Linked DNA regions of Homo sapiens. Changing the gene in region 1 together with any one later gene gives a genetic interaction. Each region holds a gene or a part of one and is shown on either strand. Other genes may lie near its edges. The genes, in order: RAD23B and ALDH2.

Evidence for each region.
Region 2: changes in RAD23B (region 1) and ALDH2 are lethal when combined (synthetic lethality), as found in Homo sapiens cells (one large-scale study listed by BioGRID).

Annotation. Positions count from the first base shown.
Region 1 is NC_000009.12:107,289,663-107,293,484, forward strand, and holds part of RAD23B (UV excision repair protein RAD23 homolog B), read left to right. Parts: intron 1-3,822. UniProt on the Homo sapiens protein: Multiubiquitin chain receptor involved in modulation of proteasomal degradation. Binds to polyubiquitin chains.
Region 2 is NC_000012.12:111,769,792-111,773,613, forward strand, and holds part of ALDH2 (aldehyde dehydrogenase, mitochondrial isoform 1 precursor), read left to right. Parts: intron 1-3,822. UniProt on the Homo sapiens protein: Required for clearance of cellular formaldehyde, a cytotoxic and carcinogenic metabolite that induces DNA damage.

The DNA.
Region 1 (3,822 bases):
AGGTACAGTTGGCTGTACCACTTGCTGTGTCACCTCAGGCAAGTTACTCAGTATGTGCCTTTTGGTCCTCTGCTGTAAAATGAGAATACTAGTATGAAAGTACTAACTTATTGGTATATGGGTTTTGAAATAATATTAACAGTGCTTGGCAATGTGGTACCACTCTCCCTCCATTGTTCTTGCTTAGAAAGCCTCAAATGTGATTAAATTCAACTCAGTGTTTGTACTTGCACCTGAGTGGCCAGAGATGCACCTTGTAGCCACATTGACTTGTCTTGCTTAAATTTATGAACATTAAGGAACTTAAGTTCATGAGCACTAAGGAACATTAAGGCACACTAAGGAACCTTAATTGGGTCCTTAGTATGCAGCACCTGACAGTCTTACAGTTTACTAGTCCAGTCACTCTTCCACTGCCACAGGATGCTTTCATATCATCTAGCCTGCTTATTTTCACTTGATGACCCTAGTCTTTATTTGATTGAGAATTTGGAAATAATCGAGACAGAATGTCTACAAGGTCCTACCGTAGCTACCTACCTGCTAGCCTCTTCTTACTGTAGATAGTTCTGAATTGTGGGCGGTGCTATCTAAGGCAGGTCCTTCCACTTTTCCACTGTACCTCATCCCCTGTCATGTGTGAAGGACATCACTCCATCAGATCTTTTCTCTTCATCACTGATTTTTCCCATTTCTAGGGTATACAAACATTTTTCCCCATCTTAATGATACACTCCCTTGTGTCCACATCCCTCTTTAGCTGCTGCCCTATTTCCCTGCTTCTCAAGAAAATTCAGGAGTATCTCTTAATTCTGTTTACTTTTTTCCACATCTTGCTCTTTTCAGATCCACCATACTGTTCCTAAAAGGGAGTCCTCACAACTTTGTACTTGTGCTTTGTCCTTAAGCACAATACTTTTAAAAAAGTCTTTCTCCTCTTTATTAAAATGAGAGTAATAATAATTGAACTGCTTTCCTAACAGTTGTGAAAATCAGGTGAGATCATGGGCATGGAAATATTTAGTGAATTGTGAAATTAGAAATAAATTTTGCAGTTTTTAAACAAATCCTGCTTTCATCAGTTTTTATTTCGATCATTTCACTATTCTTTCTTTAAAAGGTTTGTATGAATGAGATATTCTCATTTTCTTAGATTGACATAATCAGCAATTTTGAACAGTGTGTAAAATCAATGAACAAGGTCCTGCCGCGATAGATGCCGTATAGGATTCCAGTTAATTTCTGAAAGAAATTTGCTAAATTTAACCCTACTGTGGCACAGTGAATCGTACGAAGGACACTACACCATCTGTTCCCTGTAAGTTTAGATAAATAAATGTTTTTTATAGTGTCACGAAAGCTAATTTTACAACTGAATGAGCTTTATAAAACTTGTAAACATTGTATAAACTTATTTCGAGGAGGTAGACCAGCTACAAATGACTGACAATACATGAACAGATTCTGGAGGCTTAAACAGGTAGATAAAGTTGTTCTCACCAATTATTCCCCACACACTTCTGGTTGAATTAGGTAGGCACCTTGTTTTTGCTAGTGCACTGGCGAGATCCATTCTTTGCCTATATAGAAACTTACAGGTATCTTGGGAATTCTGCTTACTCAGTTTTCAAATTCCTGTGTTTCTTTTGGTCTTGTTGAAATCATACTGTTAGGAATATATTTTATAATAGATTAAATTGGCATGAATTGGTTGGCTTAATTTCTGTGGGACAAATGGGTTTTGGATTTCAAATCATATATTTAAAATAATAGCCTTTTGGATCATAACCCCAGTTTGAGGATTGCCTTTGTTATAGTGCCTGCCTCTTCTCACATAATTAATGTTATGCTATCAGTTATTGTTTCAATTGTAAAAATCTCCTGTACTAAATTATTTTATTCCTTGGGTCCAGTGAGGAGATTTTTCCTATTTGTACTGAAGTCAGCTGACATTTTTAAAATCAAATTTGTATTTGTAGAAATATCAGGAACCTACCTTGGGACAGAAATTCCCCAGGAAATACTCTGGTGCCTGTACCAGTTTCTCAAGTGGAAGGAGAAGAACCGAAGAACCAAAAAAGAAAAAGCATTACCTGTAGTGTAAACATAAGAAATCCTTTAGTACACATTTGGCTTTGGGAATCTCCTTTATTTTGCTAATTGTTGATTGCCAAAATTTAATTGCTGCTATTATTTTTTAATTAGGCCGTGTAGTATTAGAACTGCCTTAGACCTTTTTCTTTTAAATGAAATCTCTTTTTCTCTTTGAAAGTCCAGTTTTCCCTAAATTACTCAAGTAATTCAGGCTCATTATAGTAAATAAAGTATAGTAAAATGAGAATGGCTTTTGCCATCGGTCTAAGGAACCACTGTAGACTCTGTATATCCCTCTAGTCTTTTCAAAAAATACATTTACACATAATACATGAACACAACTACACTATTTGTTTAAAAAAATTAATTAGCAACTAGCTTTTTTTCCTCAAACATAGTTATAAATATTCATTTATATTGCATAATGTTCAAATGAATTTATGTACATTAATTTATTTTACCATTTCTCCTTTGTGGATGTTTAGGGTGGTTTTCAGTTTTTAGTATTGCAAAAAGCAATGTAGTGCACATACTTTGTACCTTTGTCTTTGAAGTAGTTACATGAGCACCTCTAGCATTGATTTCTAGATGCGAAATTATTTGGTCAAAGTGTGGCAGATTGCCTTTAAAAATGCCTGGTCAGGCTGAGCGCCGTGGCTTATGCCTGTAATCCCAGCACTTTGGGAGGCTGAGGTGGGCGGATCACGAGGTCAGGAGTTCGAGACCCTCCTGGCCAATGTGATGAAACCCTGTCTCTACTAAAAATACAAAAAATTAGCTAGGTGTGGTGGCGTGCACCTGTAGTCTCAGCTACTTGGGAGGCTGAGGCAGGAGAATCGCTTGAACTCGTGAGGTGGAGGTTGCAGTGAGCCAAGATCGTGCCACTACACTCCAGCCTGGTGACAGAGCGAGACTCTGTCAAAAAAAAAAAAAAAAAAAAAAGCCTGGTCAGTACTTACACACATTAACAATACTTGTTATTTACAAATACCATCTCCCATATGAGTAGCCAGGATTCAAATTTAGAGACTCTGCCTCTAGAGCCTGTATGTTTAACCTTTTTATTTCATCTGCCTTAGTGTCCCCATTAGAAAAAGAGGATAATAGTATCTACCTGTGTACTAGTTAACCTATTACTGCATAACAAATTACCCCAAAACTTAATTAGAACAGTAAACACTTACTATTTCATAATTTCTGTGAGTCAGAAATTCAGGGATATTTTAGCTGTGTGGTTCTTACTCAAGAGTCTCAGGAAGTTGGATTTAAGGACTTCATTCTATGCATTAAAGGCTTGACTGGCTGGAGGGTTCCCACTGAAAGTGACTTCCTCACATGGCTAACAGCTTGGTGATGGTTATTGACTGGAGGCCTCAGATCCTCCCCATATGTCCTCATGACATTGTGGCTGGCTTCTCCCAGTGTTAGTGATCCAAGAGAGCAAAATAGAAACGATGGCTTTTATATATAAACCAGCCTCAGAAGTCACACTTTTACTTCAGCAGTATCTTACTGTTCTTGTGGACTAGCCATAATTTAGTATGTGAAGGGTATGTACCAAAGGCTTGAATACCAAGAGATGGGAGTCATTGGGGGCCATCTTGGGTGTTGGCTACTACAACCTCATAGAGATGTAGTACAGATTAAAAGAGTTAATTATTGTGAGGCTCTTAGTACACTGCCTGGCATATGGCAAGTACATAGCCTGCATTAGCTTTTATTCAGATG
Region 2 (3,822 bases), on another chromosome or scaffold:
AGGGAAGAGGGATGGTGCATACAGCAGTGGACTCTGCACCTCAGCTGCCTCATCTGTAAAATGGGGTAAAATGGCTGGGTGCAGTGGCTCACACCTGTAATCCCAGCATTTTGCAAGACTGAAGCAGGCGGATCACGAGGTCAGGAGTTCGAGACTAGCCTGGCCAACATAGTGAAACCCTGTCTCTACTGAAAATACAAAAATTAGCTGGGCATGGTGGCGCGCACCTGTAATCCCAGCTACTTGGGAGGCTGAGGCAGGAGCATCACTTGAACCTGGGAGGCAGAGGTTGCAGTGAGCCGAGATCACACTACTGCATTCCAGCCTGGGTGACAGAGCGAGACTCCATCTCAAAAAAAAAAAAAAATGTGGGGGGTAAAATTCCATCTGCATCACCGAATTGCTGTGAGGACCAAATGGGGTGAGGCTTCTGCAGCCACAGGCAGTGCTGGCTTCATGGCCACTGGTGCCTCCATATTGACTGCAGCCTTAAGCAGGAGCTGGGATAACAGTGACGCTGTGGACTTGCAGTGTCTTGGTGATCAAACTCCATTTGATATGGATGCTGTTGTATTTGCAGTTTGTTTCCTGAAGGGGTGAGCTAGATTGTGGTAAAGTAGAATGGGAGTTTGGGGTGAATTAAAACTTGCATCTTTATTCTTACCCTCTCTTTCTGTTTTTGTTTTTGTTTTGAGACAGGGTCTCTCACTGTTGCCCAGGCTGGAGTGTAGTAGTGCTCACTGCAGCCTCAACCTCCCAGGCTCAGTCAACAAGTTATCCTCCTACTTCAGTCTTCCAAGTAGCTGAGACTACAGGCATACCCCACCACACCTGACTAATTTTTGTATTTTTTATTTTATTTTATTTATTTGAGACAGACTCTTGCTCTGTTGCCCAGGGTGGAGTGCAGTGGTGTGATCTTGGCTCACTCTAACCTCCACCTCCTGGGTTCAAGCGATTCTCCTGCTTGAGCCTCCTGAGTAGCTAGGATTACAGGTGCCCACCACCACGCCTGGCTAATTTTTTTGTATTCTTAGTAGAGATGAGGTTTCGCCATGTTGGCCAGGCTGGCTGGTCTTGAACTCCTGGCCTCAGGTGATCCACCTGCCCTGGCCTCCCAAAGTGCTGGGATTAAGGCACTGCAGCCAGCCAATTTTTTATAATTTTTATAGAGATGGGGTTTTGCCATGTTGCCCAGGCTGGGTCTTGAACTTCTAGGCTCAAGCAATCTTCCCTCCTTGGCCTCCCAAAGTGCTGGGATTACAGTGTGAAGCACTGAACTAAAGAGAGAACTGACAGGCAATTAAGGATGGATTTCCCAAGGCTAGGTGTGGTGGCTCACAGCTGTAATCCCAGCACTTTCAGAGGCTAAGGTGGGAAGATTGCTTAACCCCAGGAGTTCGAGACCAGCCTGGGCAACATAGCAAAACTCCATCTCTACAAAAGCTTAAAAAAATTAGCTGGACATGGTGGTGAGCACCTGTAGTCACAGCTACTTGGGCGGCTGAGGCAGGAGGATTGCTTGAGCCAAGGAGTTTGAGGCTTCAGTGAGCTTTGATCTTGCCACTGCACTCCATCCTGGGCAACACTGCAAGTATACATAGGCACCATACAGAAATGTTCATTGCAACTTCTTTTATGTCAGTAAAAGCTTAGGAAATAAGCCAGCTCGAGCTCCATTGGGAAATAGATGAACACCTATGTTACAGTTATAGGAGGAAATAATCCTCTGCATGTAGCAGTTACAAATCATTGGCTCAACCTGTACAAATAATGTATCTCAAAAACAATATGTCAAGGAGGAAAAATGTCCAGCACTCTACACCATATGAAACCATGAAAACTGTACAAAACTTTATGTTGTATGTAGATAGACAGATCTCCATAAAAAATGTGTAAGAATGTGCTGGAAGGAAAATTCTCCTTGGTGTGAGGGTGGTTACTGCCTGAGTGGGCAGGACAGGATAAGGGTAGTGATGAACGAGGACTCTGGCTTCATTTAAATGTTTGATTTCTTTAAAAATTGGCCAGGCACGGTGGCTCACGCCTGTAATCTCCGCACTTTGGGAGGCTGAGGCGGGCAGATTGCTTGAGCACAGGAGTTCGAGACCAGCCTGACCAACATGGTGAAACCCTGACTCTGCTAAAAATACAAAAATTAGCTAGGCCTGGTAGCCCACGCTTGTAATCCCAGCTACTCCGGAGGCTGAGGCATGAGAATCACTTTAACCCGGGAGGCAGAGGTTGCAGTGAGCCGAGATCGCACCACTGTACTCCAGCCTGGGTGACAGAGTGACACTTCGTCTGAAAAAAAACTCCCCAAAAAACAAAAAAAACTTAATACCCCATGAGCAGATATTAAAAGAAAAAAGAAAAAATATAATGGTCCCCTGATGTGCCACCCCTGCAGATAATCACTGTTAACGGTATATCTGAAGCAGAAATTTGCTTTTTCTTGTTTGCCTGGGAGATTCTTACAGAATGAGCCAAAACCTGTGTTTTGGAGTGACTTTGTGCTGACTGAATCTCCCTATTGATTGTACAGGTTGATGACTTCTTTAGGAGTGTCCTTTGTTTTTGTTTTTGTTTTTGAGATGTAGTCTCACTCTGTCGCCCGGGCTGGAGTGCAGTGGCACGATCACGGCTCACTGCAACCTCTGCCTCCCGGGTTCAAGCGATTCTCCTGCCTCAGCCTCCTGAGTAGCTGGGATTACGGGTGCCGCCACCATGCCCAGCTAATTTTGTATTTTTAGTAGAGTTGGGGTTTCACCATGTTGGCCAGGCTAGTCTCAAACTCCTGACCTTGTGATCCACCCGCCTTGGCCTCCCAAAGTGCTGGGATTACAGGCGTGAGCCACTGCACCTGGCCTCTTTTTTTTTTGGTTTTTTTTTTTTTTTTTGAGACAGGGTCTTGCTCTGTTGCCCAGGCTGGAGTGCAATGGCATGATCATAACTCACTGCAACCTCAAACTCTTGGGCTGAAGCGATCCTCCTGCGTCAGCCACTAGAGGCACTGGGATTATAGGCATGGGCCACAACATCCAGCTAGGAGTTTTAAGAGCCTCTATAGAAATAGATTTAGGTGGCCGGGCATGGCAGCTCATGCCCTGGCATAAGAGTGAGGCCTAGTGACAGAGTGAGACTCCGTCTCAAAAAAAAAAAACAAAAAGAAATAGATTTAGGCAGGCTGGGTGTGGTGGCTCATGCCTGTAATCCCAGCACCTTGGGAGGCCGAGGCAGGCGGATCACCTCAGGTGGAGACCAGCCTGACCAATATGATGAAACCCCGTCTCTACTAAAAATACAAAAATTGGCCGGTGTGGTGGCATGTACCTGTAATCCCAGCTACCTGGGAGGCTGAGACAGGAGAAACGCTTGAACCCAGGAGGCGGAGGTTGTGGTGGGGCCCAGTGACACCGCCCGCCTCAGCCTCCCAAAGTGCTGGGATTACAGGCATGAGCCACCGTGGCCGGCCCGTGTTTTTAATCAGAGAACACAAATGGGCATTCAATACTTCCTGCCTGCCCAGAATCTGTGGGACACACTTGAGTTTCAGGTGACAGGGCTATAATAATGTTTGTGCTCCTGAGGTCAAGCTGAGTTGAGAATTTACATGTTGTGGACATGTGTATGTATTCCCTGCTCCAGTAATCATGATTATTCATCACCTATTTTCCATCAGGCCCTCTACTGAGGACTTCTACCTGCATTTCACCTTTCATCCTACCCGCAACTCTATAAGCCTGGTAGTATTGCTGTCCCGTCTTGCGGGTGAGGAAACTGAGGCTCAGGGAGGTCAAGTTCACATTAAGTATAACTAAG